Linked DNA regions of Homo sapiens: regions 2 and 3 are each linked to region 1. The links come from fine-mapping of genetic effects on gene expression. A gene starts in region 1. Each other region holds a variant in brackets. All regions are shown on one strand. Distances are between the middles of the regions. Region 1 holds the start of CRTC1 (CREB regulated transcription coactivator 1). Region 2 overlaps CRTC1 (CREB regulated transcription coactivator 1). Region 3 overlaps CRTC1 (CREB regulated transcription coactivator 1).

What was found. PIP is the estimated chance that this variant, and not a neighbour inherited with it, causes the effect. A credible set is the group of variants that fine-mapping cannot tell apart.
Region 2: its variant is the best candidate, but not a certain one, in a credible set for the expression of CRTC1 in cerebellum (GTEx, PIP 0.85).
Region 3: its variant is the best candidate, but not a certain one, in a credible set for the expression of CRTC1 in tibial nerve (GTEx, PIP 0.81).

The regions. Positions count from the first base shown.
Region 1 is chr19:18,680,679-18,687,215 of GRCh38, reverse strand. CRTC1 (CREB regulated transcription coactivator 1) reads right to left here and starts at 3,536. Exons shown (of 14, transcript NM_015321.3): 1 at 3,388-3,536. The coding sequence starts at 3,513. RefSeq lists a silencer at 3,547-3,636 and an enhancer at 3,847-4,146.
Region 2 is chr19:18,722,780-18,729,316 of GRCh38, reverse strand. All of the region lies in intron 1 of CRTC1 (CREB regulated transcription coactivator 1), which reads right to left. Among named protein-coding and RNA genes, the nearest start is that of CRTC1, 42 kb to the right of the region's middle. The variant C/T (reference allele first, on the strand shown) is at 3,386.
Region 3 is chr19:18,715,330-18,721,866 of GRCh38, reverse strand. All of the region lies in intron 1 of CRTC1 (CREB regulated transcription coactivator 1), which reads right to left. Among named protein-coding and RNA genes, the nearest start is that of CRTC1, 35 kb to the right of the region's middle. The variant T/C (reference allele first, on the strand shown) is at 2,907.

The DNA of each region.
Region 1 (6,537 bases):
CTACAAACCCCATCTCTGCTACAAATACAAAAATTAGCCAGGCATGGTAGCAGATGCCTGTAATCCCAGCTACTCGGGAGGCTGAGGAAGGAGAATCACTTGAACTCGGGAGGCAGAGGTTGCAGTGAGCCGAGATTGCGCCACTGCACTCCAGCCTGGGCAACAGAGCAAGAGTCTATCTCAAAAAAAAAAAAAAAAAAAAAAGTTTCTCAGTCTTGGCACTGCCGACATCTGGGGCCAGATTATTCCACACGATGGGGCCATCCTGTGCACTACATGTAGGGGGTTGGGCAGCATCCCAGCCTCCACCCACCAGATGCTAGAAGCACTCCCTAATCATGATGACCCAAAATGTCTCCAGACATCACCAAGTGTCCCCTGGGGGGCAGAATCACCCCCTGCCCCAGAAAGAGAACAATGCTTTGTGTCTAAAAATCTAGTGTGAACTCACCTCTGCCCAGAGCCCATGCTCCCCTGACCCCAGGTGATGAGGAAGATGGGAAATGGTTTCCAGGGCTGAAAGAACTGCCACCTGCATATCTTCAGAATCTTGTTTTTGTTTTTGTTTTGAGATGGAGTCTCACTCTGTTGCCAAGGCTGGAGTACAGTGACACAATCTCAGCTCACTGCAACCTCCACTTCCCAGGTTCAAGCGATTCTTCTGTCTAAGCCTCCCGAGTAGCTGGGATTACAGGCATGTGCCACCACACCCGACTAATTTTTGTATTTTTAGTGGAGACGGGTTTCACCATGTTGGCCAGGCTGGTCTCGAACTCCTGACCTCAGGTCATCCACTCACCTTGGCCTCCCAAAGTGCTGGGATTACAAGTGTGAGCCACTGCACTTGGCCTCAGAATTTTTCTAAATTCATTGACTGATGAATGGATAAACAAATACAATATATCCATACAACGGAATATTACTTGACCCTAAAAAGGAACGAAGCACTGATCCATGATACTACAGAGATGAACCTTGAAAACATGACGCTGAGTGAAAGATGCCAGTCACAAAAGGCCACGTGTTGTGTGATTCCATTTATATAAAATGCCCAGAATAGGAAAACCCACAGAGACAGAAGACAGCTTAGTGCTTGCCAGGGGCTAGGGGAGGGGGAATGGGGAGTGACTGTTAATGGGGACGGGGTTTCTTTCTGGGTGGATAAAAAATGTTCTGGAATTACAAAATAGGGGTGGTTGCACAACTCTGTGAATATACTAAAAACCACCAAACTGTACACTTTAAACAAGTAAATTGTATGATGTGTGAATCATATCTCAATAAAGCTATTATTTTAAAGAGATGTTTTCAACAACAATAATCTATTTCCAATCCCACGCAGAAACTGGACTTCTAATCAGAATGACACCCATGAACCTACTGTGACCCCTTTCTTCCGGTCACACTGCAAACATTTGACAACAACTGCATGCCAGCACACACCATGTGCTGGAGACAAAAAGAAGTGGCCACTCCTGCCTCAGAAGCCCTGATATGTGGGGGACACTCACGTGGAAGGATGCTCAAGTTGCACACTTTCTTCTTATTTTCTTTTTTTGAAATGGAGTTTCACTCTTGTCACCCAGGCTGGAGTACAGTAACATGATCTCGGCTCACTGCAACCTCCACCTCCCAGGTTCAAGTGATTCTCCCACCTCAACCTCCCCAGTAGCTGGGATTACAGGTAGCTACCACCACGTCCGGCTAATTTTTATATTTTTAGTACAGACAGGGTTTCACCACGTTGGCCAGGCTGGTCTCGAACTCCTAACCTCAGGTGATCCACTGCCTCAGCCTTCCAAAGTGCTGGGATTACAGGCATGAGCCACCACACCTGGCCATTTTCTTATTTTTTTTTCATTCATTCATTCACCAGCCATCTCTTTCTCTACATCCTGAGCAAGAATGTAGCTGCTTGGAGCTGGGAGGACAGATGTGGCACACTCACCGAGCATGCCTAAAGCAGTACCTGGGTGACAGTGAGCTCCCAATCATTACCAACACAGAAATGAAGACACAAATCCTAGTCTATAAGGTCACAATCTCTCAGAGAAACAAACAACTAGTTACAAAGTAACACAGACTGAAAGTGCTACCTAAGGAATCAGAGACTGAGGTTAAGTCTACCTGAGCCAGTCACATCAGTGGCTGAATCTGGAAACCAGGGATACGAGCATCTGCAAAGCCCACCCAAACCCTCCCCAAGGCCCCAGGATGCAGGAGAGAGGTCTCACCACACTGCAAGAACAAAGTGGAGATTCAGCATCACCTTTGCAGAGTGTGCTCACCACCCTGCCCCAAGAGGAAGGTCTTGCTAGAATGCCTGACAAGAAACTGAGGCCTGAGGAACTCGGGTGCCTTGCCGTGCTCAGACACCAGCCCCAAGCCCCTGCTCCTGGCCCACAGCAACTTCCCAGGTGAGATTTGCAGGGTATCTGCTCTGCCAGACAGGAGCCTGGCAGAACCTGGCCTGCCCCTGCACACCAAATGCGCCCAGCCACCTGAGGCAGACCTGGCCCTCCACCCTGGTCCTGAGAGGGCAGGGGCTGTGGTCAGCATCCCCTGTTCCACTGGGAGGAACATCACCTGGCCCCCACCATATGGGCTACATGGAGAAGGGGCAGCTGTCTCCACTCCAAGTTCCAGGACTGAGCACAATCTGCCTTCTTGGCCCCCCTCTGGACCCCCTGGGGGACAGGATCTGACCATTCCCTCAGCTGTCCAAGAGGGAGAGATCCCTGTCCCACCTCAGCTCTGCAAGTGGGGACATCCGTTCCTCCCCCAACACCCAGGGAGTAAAGGCACAGGTAACCATGACGTAGAGACACCGGTCCCCCTCAGGTAGCAAGAATGGGAGGGCATCTGTCCCTCCCAGGTAGCAAGGATGCGGGGGCACTTGCACCCTCACCCCCAGCTACCAATGGTGCTTGCAAGCAGCACCCAGCTCATACACCTGTGTCATCCTGCCCCCCCAGGTAGCAATGATGCGGGGGCACCTGTCCCTTCCAGGTAGTAATAATGTGGGGCACCTGTCCCCCTCGGGTAACAATGATGTAGGGACACCTGTCCCCTGTCAGGTAACGACGAGGTACTAGCACCTGTTCCCTCCTAGTAGTAATGATATAGAGGCCCCTGTCTCCTCCGGGGAGCAGTGATGCAGGGCACCTGTACCCCATCAGGTATGGATTTTGTGGGGTCACCTGTCCCGCCCACGACGCCCGGGGCGTGGGGACACCTGTCCCCCTCGGGCCGTGCCAAGCCCCGCCCCCGCCGCGCGCGCCCCGCCCCCGCCGCGCCCCCCCCCACCCCGCCCCGTGCACGCGCCGGACACGCGCCCCCTCCCTCCCTCCGCCGGCCCTGAAGGGTCGGCGCGGGCAGCCCCCTTACCCGCGCGGCCCGCGTCAGGCTCAGGTCCTTCATGACCTCCTCGAAGGCCGCCGTCTCCTCCGCCTGCTTCTGATTGTGCAGCGCGATCTTCTCGCTGAATTTCCGCGGATTGTTCGAAGTCGCCATCTTCTCGCCGCCACCTCCTCCTCCTCCTCCTCCTCCTCCACCTCCTCGCCCCCCCACTCGCCCGTGCCACCGCGCAAGCGCCGGCTGGGCCCACGGGCGGCGAGCAGTGCGCAGGCGCGCCGGCGGTCGTGAGCGCGGCGCAGGCGCACAGGAGCGGCGCGCGGCGCGGGGGCGAAGGCGCATGCGCGCGCCCAGGCGCGCGCTCGGGGCCCGCGGGAAGGGCGGTGGAGCGCGAGTGGAAATTTCAACGCCGACGCAGTGATCCGCCTCCTGGCCCGCTGGACAGCGGCCTCTGGGCTGTTGGACAAGGACCGCGGATCGGCTGGGGCACTGGAGCCCCCAAGAGGGAGACGGCCTGACCCAGATCCTCCCAATTCACAAGGGTGGGGCCAGGCACCCCCCCCCGCAAGGATTGGTGGCACCCCAAGTTGAACCTGGGTTTGGACTAAGAGCTCTGAAAACAGACTAGGGCGTTGGTCACTCATGCATTCATTCATTCAAGGAATATTTACTGAGCACCTACTATGTGCCAGGCAAACTGGAGTACAGGCGTGAACAAGCAGAGGTGATCCCTGCCCTTATGGAGTGTACAGTCAGAGAGGGGGCAGACATAGCACACAAATAACCAAGAACTTTTCAGATGGAGGTAAATGTGATGCGGTAAATAAGACCAGTGGCCAGCCACAGAACATTAGGGAGGGAGGCTCCTGCAGCCACCACAGACAGGGAGGCGGAAAGTTATCTTAGCTAAGACCTGAACCCTGCAATCGGCTCTCTCAGTCCATAAACCTAGCTGTTGCCCTTAACGACTTTCTTTTTTTTTTTTTTTTTTCCCTTGAGACCGAGTTTTGCCCTTGTCGCCCAGACTGGAATGCAGTGGTGCGATCTCGGCTCACTGCAACCTCCTCCTCCCAGGTTCAAGCCATTCTCCTGCCTCAGCCTCTCCAGTAGCTAGGATTACAGGCAGGCGCCACCACGCCCAGCTAATTTTTTTATTTTCAGTAGAGACTAAAGACCATGTTGGCCAGGCTGGTCTTGAACTCCTGACAGCAGGTGATCCACCCGCCTCGCCCTCCCTAAGTGCTGGGATTACAGGCGTGAGCCACCATGTCCAGCCGACGACTACTTTTTCCCATTCCCTTGCAATGGGCATATTGCTATTCTCTGGATACCTGAGCCCAAAGAACTGGAGTTACAGAGCTTCAGCCTTCCCTCTGCATACTTCTCCAGTCCAGTCTTGTTCAAGGATCTCTATTTTGCAACAAGGTGCTAACAGAAGGGTCCAGAAATCCCATCAAGACTCAGCAGTGAAGGAAGGAGCAGAGACTCCCCCGATGGCAGAGTGGTAAGCCAGGGAAGCAGGAGGGACTCTAACCCTCCCTCCCTCAAGAGAGGGACCCCCAACCACCAATATTGAAAGTTTATATTCAGGAGGCTGCAGGGATTTCAGAGTATGGGCTGGGTGGAAGCTAGGAAGGTCAGCTGGGGGAATTGATGATGGCTCTAATGGCACAACAAGCACACATTTTATTGGACTGAGGATGGCTGGAGGGGATGCTGACATCTTCCAAACATGCTTTGATTCATGCTTTACAACAGGTAATAAAATGCTCATGTTAAATATATATATATATATATCGATTTTCATTTAGAATGCCTTGGATATTGCCACTGCCCTACTTTATCTTTGTTTTGAGACAGAGTCTCACTCTGTCGCCCAGGCTAGAGTGCAGTGGCGCAACCTTGGCTCACTGCAATCTCTGCCTCTCAGGTTCAAGCGATTCTCCTACCTCAGCCTCCCAAGTAGCTGGGATTACAGGCATGCACCATGATGCTCAGCTAATTTTTATGGGATTTTTTTTTTTTTTTTTTTTTTGAGACGGAGTCTCTGTTTCCCAGGCTGGAGTGCAGTGGCACAGACTCAGCTCACTGCAACCTCTGCCTCTGGGGTTTAAGTGATTCTCCTGCCTCAGCCTCCCAAGTAGCTGGAATTACAGGAACCCACCACCACACCCGGCTACTTTTTGTATTTTTAGTAGAGACAGGGTTTCACCGTGTTGGCCAGGCTGGTCTTGAACTTCTGACCTCAGGTGATCCGCCCGCCTCAGCCTCCCAAAGTGCTGGGATTACAGACATGAGCCACCGCACCCGGCCATCTTCCTTCTTGATATGATTTTGCGCACTTTGGTAAGCTCCTATACTTTTTGCCTAACAAGCATATTCCTTCTCTCAACCCCACCCACTCCCTCAACTTTTTAGTGTCAACAACCCTTATTTGGGGAACACTGGTTCTGACTTTCAGTCTGTGAGATGTGAATGGCTGGTCTCACCACTCTCCCACCACACAAACACCCCTCCCTAAGGTGGAAGTCTTGGCCAATCAGCATAGCCCATTGTGCTGGCCATCAAGATTGGTTCAGGCCAGGCTGGGTGTTGTGGCTCATGCCTGTAATCCCAGAACTTGGGAGGCCGAGGCAGGAGGATCATTTGAGCCCAGGAGCTTGAGACCAGCCTGGGCAACATAGCGAGATTTAATCTCCACTAAAAATAAAAAAATTACCTGCGCGTGGTGATGCCTGCTTATAATCCCAGCTACTCAGGAGGCTGAGACAGGAGGATTGCTTGAGCCTGGGAGATGGAGGCTGCAGTGAGCTATGATAATGCACTGCACTCCAGCCTGGGTGACAGAGCAAGACCCTGTCTCAAACAAACAAACAAACAAACAAACAAAAAACAGGCTGGGCGCTGGGTCATGACTGTAATCCCTACACTTTTGGAGGCAGAGGCGGGCAGAACACCTGAGGTCAGGAGTTTGAGACCAGACTGGCCAACATGGTGAAACCCCATCTCGACTAAAAATACAAAAAAAATTAGCCAGACGCGGTGGCACACGCCTGTAATTCCAGCTGCTGGGGAGGCTGAGGCAGGAAAATCACTTGAACCCAGGAGGTGGAGGTTGCAGTGAGCCAAGATAGCGCCACTTCACTCTAGCCTGGGCAACAGAGGGAGACTTTGTCTCAAAAA
Region 2 (6,537 bases), 42 kb before region 1:
GTAGCTGGGACTACAGGTGCCCGCCGCCACGCCCGGCTAATTTTTTTGTATTTTTAGTAGAGACAGGGTTTTACCACGTTAGCCAGGATGGTCTCGATCTCCTGACCTCGTGATCCGCCCACCTCGGCCTCCCAAAGTGCTGGGATTACAGGCGTGAGCCACCGCGCCCGGCCAGCCTGAACCAACTTCTAAAGAAAACAAGGCGGGCAGGTGCGGTGGCTCACGCCTGTAATCCCAGCACTTTGGGAGGCCAAGGGAGGTGGATCACCTGAGGTCAGGAGTTCGAGACCAGCCTGGCCAACATGGTGGAACCCTGTCTCTACTAAAAATACAAGAATTAGCCAGACATGATGGCAGGCACCTGTAATGCCAGGTACTTGGGAGGCTGAGGCAGGAGAATCACTTGAACTCGGGAGGTAGAGGATGCAGTGAGCTGAGATCGTGCTACTGCACTCCAGCCTGGGCGACAGAGCAAGACTCTGTCTCAAAAAAAAAAAAAAAGGCCAGGTGAGGTGGCTCACACCTGTAATCCCAGAACTTTGGGAGGTCTTTGGGAAGTCAAGGTGGGCAGATCACTTGAGGTCAGGAGTTCTAGACCAGCCTGGCCAACATGATGAAACTCCGTCTCTACTAAAAATACAAAATTAGTTAGGTGTCGTGGCACATGCCTGTAATCCCAGCTACTCAGGAGGCTGAGGCGGGAGAGTCACTTGAAACCAGGAGGCAGAGGTTACTGAGCCAAGATCGCACTATTGCACCCCAGCCTGGGCCACAAGAGGGAAACTCCATCTCCAAAAAAATTAAAAAAAGAGGATAAGGCACGGAGAACTTCCCCGGAGCTGCTCTGTGATGTTACGACTGCTTTTTCAAGTGACTTGGTGTCAGGAATGAATGAAATCGGGATCTCTGATACTTTTAAGCCCAAGCCCATTGTCCTGGTTTTGCTTACCCACAATGCATCCTGGGCAGCGATTGAAGCTGAAGAGGCCTGGAAATAAAGTTTCAAATGAGGCTAATGTACAATTCTTCACCTAGTAACATAAGGGGGTGGAGAGGCAGAGATGGGCCGGGACGGGACATTCTCCCAACCTCTGTGCAACCTCACCGGGAGGGCCAGGACACCAGGGGAGGGGTCACTTGTCCTGACCCCAGAGTCCCCCTTGGTCCATCCCCAACTCTTGGGCATGATATCAGTCTCCTGAGGCTGCTGTAACAAATAAGCACAAACCAGGTGGCTGACACAACAGAGATGTTTCCCGCACAGCTCTGGAGGCTCTGAAAGTAAGGTGGAGGCCGGGCACGGTGGCTCACGCCTGTAATCCCAGCGCTTTGGGAGGCTGAGGTGGGTGGATCACCTGAGGTCATGAGTTCGAGATCAGCCTGGCCAACATGGTGAAACCCCATCTCTACTAAAAATACAAAAGAAAATTATCTGGGCATGGTGATGGGCGCCTGTAATCCCAGCTACTCAGGAGGCTGAGGCAGGAGAACTTCCTGAACCTGGGAGGCAGAGGTGGCAGTGAGCCAAGATTGTGCCACTGCACTTCAGCCTGGGCAACATAGTGAGACTCCATCTCAAAAAATAAAAATAAAATAAAAGCAAGGTGGCCTCTCTCCCAGCTGTTGCGGCTGCTGACCATCCTTAGCACTTCTTGGCTTGTAGACGGATCGCCTCATTCTTTGCTTCTGTCTGCTTGTGTCCTTTTCCCTTTCTTCTTCTTTTTTTTTTTTTTTTTGAGACAGAGTCTTGCTCTGTCACCCAGGCTGGAGTGCAGTGGCGTGATCTCGGCTCACTGCAACCTCCACCTCCCAGGTTTAAGCGATTCTCCTGCCTCAGCCTCCCACATAGCTGGGACTACTGATGCGTGCCACCATACCCAACTAATTTTTTGTATTTTTAGTAGAGATAGGGTTTCACTGTGTTAGCCAGGATGGTCTCGATCTCCTGACCTCGTGACCTGCCTGCCTCGGCCTACCAAAGTGCTCGGATTACACGCGTGAACCACCGTGCCTGACCTTGTCCTTTTCCCTTTCTGTCCCTGTGCCTCTGTTTTGCCTTGTTTGTTTGAGACAGGGTCTCACTCTGTCACCCAGGCTGGAGTGCAGCAGCACAATCATAGCTCATGGCAGCCTTGAACTCCTGGGCTCAAGTGATTCTCCTGCTGCAGCCTCCTGAGTAGTTGGGACTACAGGAGCACACCACCAAGCCTGGCCAATTATTTTCTAATTTTTTGCTGAGATGGGGTCTGGCTATGTTGCCCAGGCTAGACCTGGACTCCTGGCCTCAAGTGATCCTCCCACCTCGGCCTTCCAAAGTGCTAGGATTAAAGGCCTAGGCCACCGTGCCTGGCCTGTTTTGCCTTCTTTTTTTTTTTTTTTTTTTTTTTCCCCAAGACGGAGTCTTTCTCTGTTACCTAGGCTGGAATGCAGTGGCACGATCTCGGCTCGCTGCAACCTCCACCTCCTGGGTTCAAGCAATTCTCCTGCCTCGGCCTCCCAAGTAGCTGGGATTACAGGCACCCACCATCACACCTGGCTAATTTTTGTATTTTTAGTAAAGACAGGGTTTCACCATGTTGGCCAGGCTGGTCTCAAACTCCTGACCTCATGATCCGCCCGCCTTGGTCTCCCAAAGTACAGGGATTACAGGAGTGGGCCACCACGCCCAGCCTTTGTCTTCTTTATAAGGACACCAGTCACTGGATTTAGGGCCCACCCTATTCCATAATGACCTCATCATGACTTAAGTCCATCTGTAAAATCCCTATTTCCAAATGAGCTCACTCACAGGTTCTGGATGAACATGAACTTTTGAGGGGACACTGTTCAACCCCATACACTCACCAAACCCCAGGTCACCTCCAGCCCACTCTAAGAACCATCCCAAGGAAGCAGATGCCCATGGCTCTCACCTCATCCCTATAGCTGGCCGCCTGAGGGCTCCTCTGGGGCAGCCAGCTCCCCTCCCGGGCCTGGGCCTCCTCTGCTGTCCCCCGGGGACCGAGGGGTGAAGCGAGGCCGGCACACGTCAGCGGTGCTGGAAATGCATGGGGCTCTGAGAGGCAGGTGGCTGGGAGCGCCGGCTGAGCCATTTGGCAGCGTCCGCCGAGTGCCTGAGCAACGTTCCTGCCCTCTAACCTGGTAATCCCACTTCTGGGAAGCTCTCCTGAGGGAAATCATCCAGAACGCAGATTTATGCGCAAAGATGTTCCTGCATCACCAGCTGGGAGAACAAGGAGCTGGAGCCTGTTCCAGGGCCCGGCCTCAACTCCAGAGAAGATCGAGGGCGCGGTACATGAGTCGGGAGGAAGCACTTTCTAGAACATCTTTACTGCAGATCTGCATGGGCACAGGCAGACCTGGGCTGAGGCTGGGTGGCCCCCGT[C/T]CCTGGGATGTCCCCAGGGGATCTGGGCAGCAGGAGCAGCCAGGGTGACCGGCAGCCCCGGAAGCGCGACACACGGGGAGAGAGGAATTCTCCAGAACACGGGAGGGCCGAGGCGGACCCTGTAAGCCAGGAGAGGGAGACCATGCAGGCTGTGTTGGGGGAAGGTGGCGGAATACCTGAGCCACGCGAGAAAGACAGAATTAGACTCAGAAGAGGAGAAAGAAGCCCCTAACACAGGCCAGAGAGGTGGGAGGCTCAGGAAGAGGGAGGAGGGGCTGGCGCCAAGGACGGCCAGGCCTCCCCAGGGATGCAAGTGGCCAAGCCAGGTCCAGCCGGCAGCCTGGTGCCCCTGTGAGCACGCATAGCCACAGGTCTGGCACTGATGCCTTCTCCAACGCTGAACCCAGGGGCCCGTGTGTGGGGACGGCTGGCCAGGCTGCCCCAACCTCCGCTCCAGGAGGGTGGCCGAGGCCTCCTAGGTTCTGGGTCCTCCTCCTTCTCCTCTCCAGGATAGAGACAGGCAGGAACCCAGAAACCAAGCGATGACAGAGAGCAAGGATTCTGGGAGCTGGACAGGGGCTCCCTGGAGGCCACAGGGAGGGACAACTGAGATGGATCAAGCCACCTAAGGGGTGCTGGCCTCAGGCCCGAGCTGGGGGAGAGAAGGGGCTGGAGGTGCAGAGGCCTGCAGAGGTCAGAGGTCACAGGAGGCCTCCCCCTCAGCATTGCCATGAGGGGCCAGGCAGGGGCACTAGGGAGCAAGGGGGTCTCGCACAGGGACGCTGGCCTAGAGTGCTATGAAGAAAAGATACTGAGCTCCCCAAGGTGAAGCATACAGGGGTCTCCTGGGTGTGTACTCAGGACAAAGGGGACACCCCCCAGCTCCAGGCGGGTCCAAGGGACGGACCAACAGGAGCGCTCCTGGGTGGGGCCAGTGTGCTGAGGGAAGCTGGGCAGGGGGTGACAGGGTCAGAGGCCTTAGGGAACTGCCAAGGCAACCAAGAGGGTGAGAGGCAGATCCCAAGCGCTCGATGCAGGTCAGCTCAGCTACTGGGGAGTGAATTCACGGTGTCCCCAAAAGGTTATATCCACCTCCTCATCCCTGGAACCTGAGAGTATGACCTTATTTGAAAAAACAGTCTTTTCAGACATAATTAAGGGAAGGATCTTGGGATGAAGAAATCATCCTAGATTAGCCGGGAGGACCCTACATCGGGTGACTGCTGCCCTTTTAAGAGACAGAAGATGAGACACAGATGCAGAGGGGGACGGCCGGGATTGGGGCGATGCAGCCACAAGCCAAGGAACGGCTGGAGCCACTGAAAGCTGGAAGAGGCAGGAAAGATTCCTCCCCAGAGCCTCCAGAGGAAGCTCGGCCCTGCCGACACCTGGATTTTAGACTTCCAGGCTCTAGAACCATGAGAGAAGACATTCTTGTTCTAAGCAGCCCAGGTGTAGTACTTTAATATATTACAGCAGCCACCAGAAACTCACACATGGCCCCCCAGTCCCAATAGGTGCTGCTGTCTCCCCTTCCAGGGCAGGGCTGAGAACCTGAACACCCCAGGTCCCTTGATCCTAGAGCCAGCTCATCATGGAATCCCCCCACACACAGCAACAACCCATCACCTCTAAGATGAAAATGAAATTGACTCCTAGCGAGTGCAGAGAACAACACCCCACGCACCCACACACCCCACCCCACAGACTGATCAGCTGTCACTGCTCCCTCCTGGGGCCTCACCATCTGCAGAGGGGACGAGGGAGCCGTGTCGATGCTGCCGAGGAGCCTGTCCGCCCCGCCGGTTCCCGCCTGGAGCCCAGGGAACAAGCCTGGGCTCACGGTGTCGCTCTCTCAACTCCCATGACCACATATGTGGGATGCTCTGTTCTGTGCAGGGAGGTTTCACATGTCTCATAAGTGCAGCATACAGTGTCTGCTTCTGCCTGGGGTGACGGTGGAATGCCATCGCCATTAACACGCCAACGTGCATCCTCCCTCCCGGAGGCTCCAAGCGCACGGGGACAACTGAGATGACGGTGGCGTGTGCAATGTGCCCCACACTGACGAGGCTGCTGTGGAGCTGGCACAGGCAGCAAGGTGGGTCGACGCAGGGGCTGTCTCACTCCATCTGAGACCAGTGTCCCTGCAGGGCAACTGCCCTGTTGCCCACAGGCCATCTGACCACATCGAAACACATAGCTAAGGCTCCCTCTCCAGGCCCCAGACAAATGGCAATCAGGCAGAAATACCAACCAGATGCCCCCTTGCCCTCCAGAGTTCTCTCTCAGGTCTTTTATCTAATGTGACGCAAGCCCACCGTTAGGAAACCCATACTGGACCTGGGGTCCCCGGTGAACTGGCCTTGGCCACAAACTTCCAACACTTTAAGCCACAGCATGGAGACACCACGTGGCTCCGCACCTCTGGGCTGTGGTGACACAGACACCCACCCTTCATCCCTTCCTCACGCCCTGCTACTTCCTGAGAGCTGTCTTCAGAAGCAAGGATGCTAAGGCAGATGGGAAGAGACAGGTCTCCGTCTCTCCCCATGGGGAGATTGGAGATAAGATGTCAACAAACTTACAAACGGTAGGTGGACGGTTAACAACATCCGAAAGACAAAACCCACCAAATAAATGGATAAACAAAATGTGGTCCATCCGTACAACAAAATATGATTGTAGGCCGGGCAATTACAGTGGCTCAGGCCTGTAATCCCAGCACTTTGGGAGGCTGTGGCAGGTGGATCACTTGAGGTCAGGAGTTTGAGACCAGCCTGGCCAACATGGTGAAACCCCATCTCTACCAAAAATACAAAAATTAGCCAGGAGTGGTGCCCCATGCCTGTAATCCCAGGTACTTGGGAGGCTGAGGCAGAAGAATCGCTTGAACCCAGGAGGCAGAGGATGTAGTGAGCCGAGATTGCACCTCTGCACTCCAGCCTGGGCAAGAGAGCAAGACCCTGTCTCAAAAAAAAAAGACTGTAGCACTGATCCATGCTACAGCATGGACAAACCTCGAAAACACGATGCTGAGTGACAGAAGCCAGACATAAAAGGCCACATGGTGTCAGATTTTCATTGATATGAAATATCCAGAATAGGCAAAGCCACAGAGACAGATTAGTGGTTGCCTGGGGCTGGGAGTG
Region 3 (6,537 bases), 35 kb before region 1:
GAAACACATAGCCATGTCCTAACCCCGCCATCTATGAATGTGACTGTATTTGGAGAGAGTCTTTGCAGGTCGAGGCCAGGTGCATGGCTCACGCCTATAATCCCAACACTTTGGGAGACTGAGGCAGGTGGATTGCTTGAGCTCAGGAGTTTGAAACCAGCCTGGGCAACATAGCAAGACCCCGTCTCTACTAAAAATACAAAAATTAGCTGGGCATGGTGGATCACGCCTGTAGTTCCAGCTACTCAGGAGGCTGAGGTGGGAGGATCGCTTGACCCCAGGAGGCAGAGGTTGAAGTGAGCTATGATTGTGCCTCTGCACTCCAGCCTGGGCGACAGAGCAAGACCTTGTTTAAAAAAAAAAAAAAAAAAAAAGGCCGGGTGTGGTGGCTCATGCCTGTAATCCCAGCACTTTGGGAGGCCAAGGTGGGTGGATCACAAGGTCAGGAAATCGAGACCATCCTGGCTAACACTGTGAAACCCCGTCTCTACCGAAAATACAAAAAATTAGCCGGGCATGGTGGCGGGCGCCTGAAGTCCCAGCTACTCGGGAGGCTGAGGCAGGAGAATGGCGTGAACCCAGGAGGCGGAGCTTGCAGTGAGCCGAGATCGCGCCACTGCCCTCCAGCCTGGACGACAGAGCGAGACTCCGTCTCAAAAAAAAAAAAAAAACAGAGGTTGAACTGGAGTAGGGTATGCCTTAAATCCAATGACTAGCATCCTCAGAAGATGAGAAGAGACACAGTGAGAGGAGGTGTCCACATGACAATGAAGGCAGAGACTGGAGTGATGCAAAGAGCGCCTAGAGCCACTGAAGCTGGAGGAGGCAGGAAGGATCCTCCCCTAGAGCCTCCTGCAGGCACCAGCCCTGCCGACACCTGCACTGAATACATTTCTATTGTTTTAAGATACCCAGTTTGTGGTCATTTGTTACAGCCACCAACAGGAAAGGAAGGACTAAGGCCCCACGCATGTGTGCAGGCAGTGTACTCGGGCAGAGAGGGCCCCATGCATGCGTGCACATAGTGTACATGAGCAGAGAGAAAGAGAGGGAATTCCAAAACTCAGCCGGGTGCAGCAGCTCACACCTGCAATCCCAGTACTTTGGGAGGTCAAGGTGGGTGGATCTCTTGAGGTCAGGAGTTCGAGATCAGCCTGGCCAACATGATGAAACCCCGTCTCTACTGAAAGTACCAAAGTTAGGCCGGGCGTGGTGGCTCACGCCTGTTATCCCAGCACTCTGGGAGGCCGAGGCGGGCGGATCACAAGGTCAGGAGATCAAGACCATCCTGACTAACATGGTGAAACCCCATCTCTGCTAAAAAAAAAAAAAAAAAAAAAACACTAAAAATTAGCCGGGCGTGGTGGCAGGCGACTGTAGTCCCAGTTACTCGGGAGGCTGAGGCAGGAGAATGGCGTGAACCCGGAAGGCGGAGCTTGCAGTGAGCCGAGATCATGCCACTGCACTCCAGCCTGGGTGACAGAGCGAGACTGTCTCAAAAAAAAGAAAAAGAAAGAAAGAAAGAAAATACAAAAGTTAGTCAGGTGTGGTGGCTCACATCTGTAATCCCAGCTACTCGGGAGGCTGAGGCAGGAGAATTGCTTGAACCAGGGAAGCAGAGGTTGCAGTGACACGAGATCGCGTCACTACACTTCAGCCTGGGAGACAGTGAGACTCCATCTCAAAAACAAAACAAAACAAAACAAAAAAACTCACTTTTTCTCCACCTTGACTCAAAACACATCTCTTGGTGCACACTTGTGTTCTGGAATGTGCAAGCACACGTCTATTTGTAGCTGGGGGAACAGATCCTTTGCAGTTTAATTTTAAATCTTATCACCAATTGAATAATGCAAACCACTGGCGGGGATGCTGGCCACTTGAAACAGGGTCTCCCTCCCCAAGAGCGGCCCCTGGGTCCCAGGCAAGAAGCCCGACGCCGACGCTGCCCACATGGACGGGCCTGGGGCCTTCCCGGAGCGGGCCTGTGCCCATCTTGAAAATGTCAGGCCTGGTTTCTGACAGGTGCCGGACCTAACCTCAGGGAAGTCAGATCCCAGACACGGCAGAGGAGGCCCAGCCCTGCTCGCCCCGGGTCAGCCGCCCGCAGGCCTCTGGGATTCTGAGCACCGCGGGGCGATCTGCCAGGAGCCACCTCCGGTCGAGGCGGAACAAATGATTTTTGAAAACGGCATCTGCCTGCTGACACAGGGCTTGCTTGGGGTCTGGGCTGAACCCGCCTCTCTGAGCAGCTCTTTCGACGCTGCCTCCCCCCAGGACGGCTAAGACAAAGGCGAGATGCCCTCATTACCATGGGCCCAAAATAGCTTTTATGCTCCATTTTTTAGACATAGCTTGACTATGGAGTTACATAACACCAAAAGTCATTTTGTGATTTGGAAGGCCAGATCCTGGGCCTGCCGGGGCCCACCTGGTACCCCTTGAGTGCCCTCACAGCCCTGTCCCAAAGGCTTCACCCAGGCCCCTGAACTCCTAGCCAGGCCCCAGGTGGCACCTGCTGCAGGCCCTGGGGACCCGGTGGGGTTAGCCCTTGCCTGTCTCACCATCTTCAGGCCGCATTCTGGGCTAGCGGGGCCAGGCACCACATTTGGAGTGCCCAGCAGACACACACGATGCAGGGAAGGACCAAGCCCAGAGGAGGGGTCACTAGTTGGAGGCTGCGCCCGCCAGGGTAGAAGAAGCAGGGACAGAGGCTGGAGGTGTCCCTTTCCTCTGCCTGCCTCATCACTCCCATGATCACTTCCCAGCAGCTCGACTTCCAGGGCCCATCGTCAGCCCCCTCCCTGGTACTAGCCCGTGTCATCTCGCACCCAGACACCCACGTGACCTCCTCCCAGGCCTCCCTGCTCCCTCTGCAAGTGGCTGCCGAGACTCCTTCATTTTCT[T/C]CTCTTTATTCATTCAGTTCAAATCGTGTTATGCTCCCGTTTTAAACACACCAGTAGGCTTCCATCCTATTTAAAATAAACCCCCAATCTGTATGGCGGTTCCTCAACAAGTGACATGCTGAGCTGCTGTTATGACCAAGCAATCCCACTCCTGGACGGATGCCCCCACGAAATGAAGACAATCATACATGAGTGTGTGTACCAGCACAATGGACAACAGCCAAAAGGTGGGAAAACCCACGTGTGTGCCAAGGGATGAATGAATAAGACTGGTCTGTCCATACAGTGGAATAAGATTCAGCCATGAAAAGGAATGAAGGCTGGGCACGGTGGCTCACACTTGTAATCCCAGCACTTTGGGAGGCGGAGGAGGGAAGATCCCTTGAGGCCAGGAGTTTGAGAGCAGCCTGGCCAATATGGTGAAACCCTGTTTCTAAAAAAAAAAAAAAAAAATTAGCCAGGCATGCATGGTGGTGCACACCAATAATTTCAGCTATTCGAGAGGCAGAGGTGGGAGGTTGGACAGAGCCCAAGAGGTGGAGGCTGCAGTGAGCTGTGATCGTACCACTGCACTCCAGCCTGGGTGACAGAGTGAGACCCTGTCTCAAGAGGAACAACAAAAAAGGAAGGAAGCACTGACCCATGCTACAATGTGGATGAAACTGAACATGTGATGCTGAGTGAGAGAAGCCAGGTACAGAAGGCCACAGGGTGTGAGATTCCATCGATCTGAAATGCTCAGAACAGGCAAATCCACAGAGACAGGAAGCAGATTAGTAACTGCCAGGGGCTGGGGAGGAGAGGAGGGGAGGGACTGCTAATGGGGACAAGGTCTCCTTTGGATGATGAGAATGTTCTGGAACTAGATAGCTGTGATGCCTGCACAATACTGTGAATGCGCCAAACGCCATGGAACTGTTCACTTTCAGATGGTGAATCTTATGTTATGTGGTGTTCACCTCAACAATAGATAAGTAAGATTCAAAGCCAGCCCCGTGACGGGGCTGCCCAGGCCCTGCTGTCTTTTTCTTCTCCCTCACTCCTGTCCCTACTGCCAGGTCCTCTTCCTGCTGTCAAAGGCCTTCTCCCCAGGGGCCCTCTGCTTGTACTGTTCCTGCCTCACACACGCACCCCCGTGTCTGGAAACCACTGCTGCCTTGACCAGGGCTGGCATGAGAAACCGTCCTGCGAGAGGCCCTCCCATGTCCCTGCGGCCCTGCTCTGCTCCCACCCGGCATTTGGCCCACCCCGGAACCCTGCACCCTCCTCTCTGAGCTGCATCCTCCAGCCCCGCCCATACTCACTGTAGGCTGAGACTGGAAGGCAGTGTTTGAGCCCAGGGGTCCTGCATCCAAGCTGGTGGCTGCACGCATCTGTGTCTGCCTCTCTGGGCCCCAGTGCCCCACACACAGGCAGAAACACAGGCTCCTGTGAGTGAGCACTACGACCCTTCTGAGGGGACAGTGTTTGGGGTGATCAGCTCCAGAGGGGAGGGACTGGCCCCTGAACAGTATGGGGTGGCAGCCCTGCTCCAGCTCAGCATCTATGGCAAGGGCTCCAGGGATGCCCTTGACCCCAAGGGCCACTACCCAGTGGTCATTACTGCACCAAGGACAGAGGCCACAAGGAGACAGACCCAGTCCTGGCTCCCACACAGCCTGAAGACCCTGGGAGAGGGTGCTAGGGGAAAGACTTCCCCTGGGCCCTCCACTCCCAAGCCCAGCAGCCCCCTCTCAGCCCCACCCTGGGAGTGCCACCATCACCCCTCACTCAAAGCTCCCCAAACTCATGTCTCCAGCCCAGCGCCAGTCACCCACCAGGGAGGCTGTACAGACATCACACGTGTTCACACACATGCACCCAGCCACATGTGTGCACACTCACAGCAATGCACATAGTCACATAAACACATTCATGCACGTGCATGCACATATGCTCACACGCACACACACATGCTCACACTCCTGTCCTGCCTGCACTCCTGTCCTGCCTGCACGCCAGCTCCCACTCACTTGCACACACACGAGCACATTCACAACTGCCCAAACCTGTCCCTTCCTTAGGAACCCCCCATGCCCCACCTGGCTCCCCCATGTCCCAGCACCTCTTCTGCCCTCTCGCCTCTTCTGTCCTCATTCTGGCCCAAGCCACATCTTCTCTTGCCTGGACAAATACAGAAGCCTCCTACTGGGGTCTCAAGTTAACCCTGCAGCGCCCAAACCACTCAGCTGGAGTCTCTCCAAACTTCCCACCTGAGCAGGTCACTCCAGCTCTACAGGAAAGACGACACAGCATGCTCTACTCGCTAGCCCCTATACTAGCCATGCCCTCTCCACACACTAATGCCCGCTGGGCTCTCCACACGCTAATGCTTGCTGGGCTGCACCTGGGCTAAGAGTCATGCAGGAGCCGGCCAGGCACAGTTGCTCACACCTGTAATCCCAGCACTTTGGGAGGCCAAGGTGGGTGGATCATGAGGTCAGGAGTTTGAGACCAGCCTGGCCAACATGGTGAAACCCCATCTCTACTAAAAATACAAAAATTAGCTGGGTGTGGTGGCAGACGCCTGTAATCCCAGCTACTTGGGAGGCTGAGGCAGAGAACTGCTTGAACCTGGGAGGTGGAGACTGCAGTGAGCTGAGATCGTGCCACTGCACTCCAGCCTGGGTGACAGAGCAAGATTGCGTCTCAAAAAAAAAAAAAGAGTCATTCGGGAGCCACATTCTGGCCCCACCTCCAATAATGACCCTCAGGCTGATGTCCCCACCCTAAGACCACAGCCCCCAACAAGGGTGGGCTGTGGCTGCTGCACTCACTACAGGGTCCCCAGGGCGGGGCACTGGGCAGGGCAGCGGGGGGCACATGCCACCAGTGACTCTGGGAATCCCGGAGGCATCCCTCCCCACCTGCAGCCCAGCAAGGGGACCATTCTCAGCATCCCCGCTCTTTGGCGACACCCCCCCCGCCAACCGCTGCCAGCACATAAGCGTACACCTGTCCCAGGCTTCGGGTGCAGGAATGCCGGGGACAGCTCCAAACAGCAGCCAACCACAAGCAGTGGCAGGAAGGAGCGTGGGCTGCAGCAAAGTCAACAGGGAAACAGGATGCAGCCCTGAGCAGGGTGGGTTCAGCCAGGTGGGCCCCTTGGCTGGGACAAACCTCCAAACAGGCCAACTCAGAGAGACCCCCTGCCTGGGAGCCCACCTGCACGTGCAAACAGCACTTGGTTCCAAGATGCAATCACACAAATGACGAAAGCAAAAGCATCATGATGTCCACACACTGAGAAGCAGGGGAAGAGGGGAGGACAGGCCCGTCCCCGGGGCCACAGGTGGCTGAGGGGAGGCTGCAGCTCCCTGCTGGGCATGGGGCCTGCACCACAGTACTTACTTTCTGTTGTGGGACGTACTCCCAGAAAAGTATGTCCAAGTCCTGACCCCTGGCACCTGGAATGGGAACTTACTTGGAAATAAGGTATTTGCAGCTGTAATTGAGTTAAAGTCATGTTGGAGTAGGGTGGGCCCTAATCCAATGGCAAGGGCCTTTAGAAGAGAAGAGAAGGGGTATTAGCCAGGCGTGGTGTCGTGCACCTGTAATCCCAGCTACTTGGGAGACTAAGGCAGGAGAATTG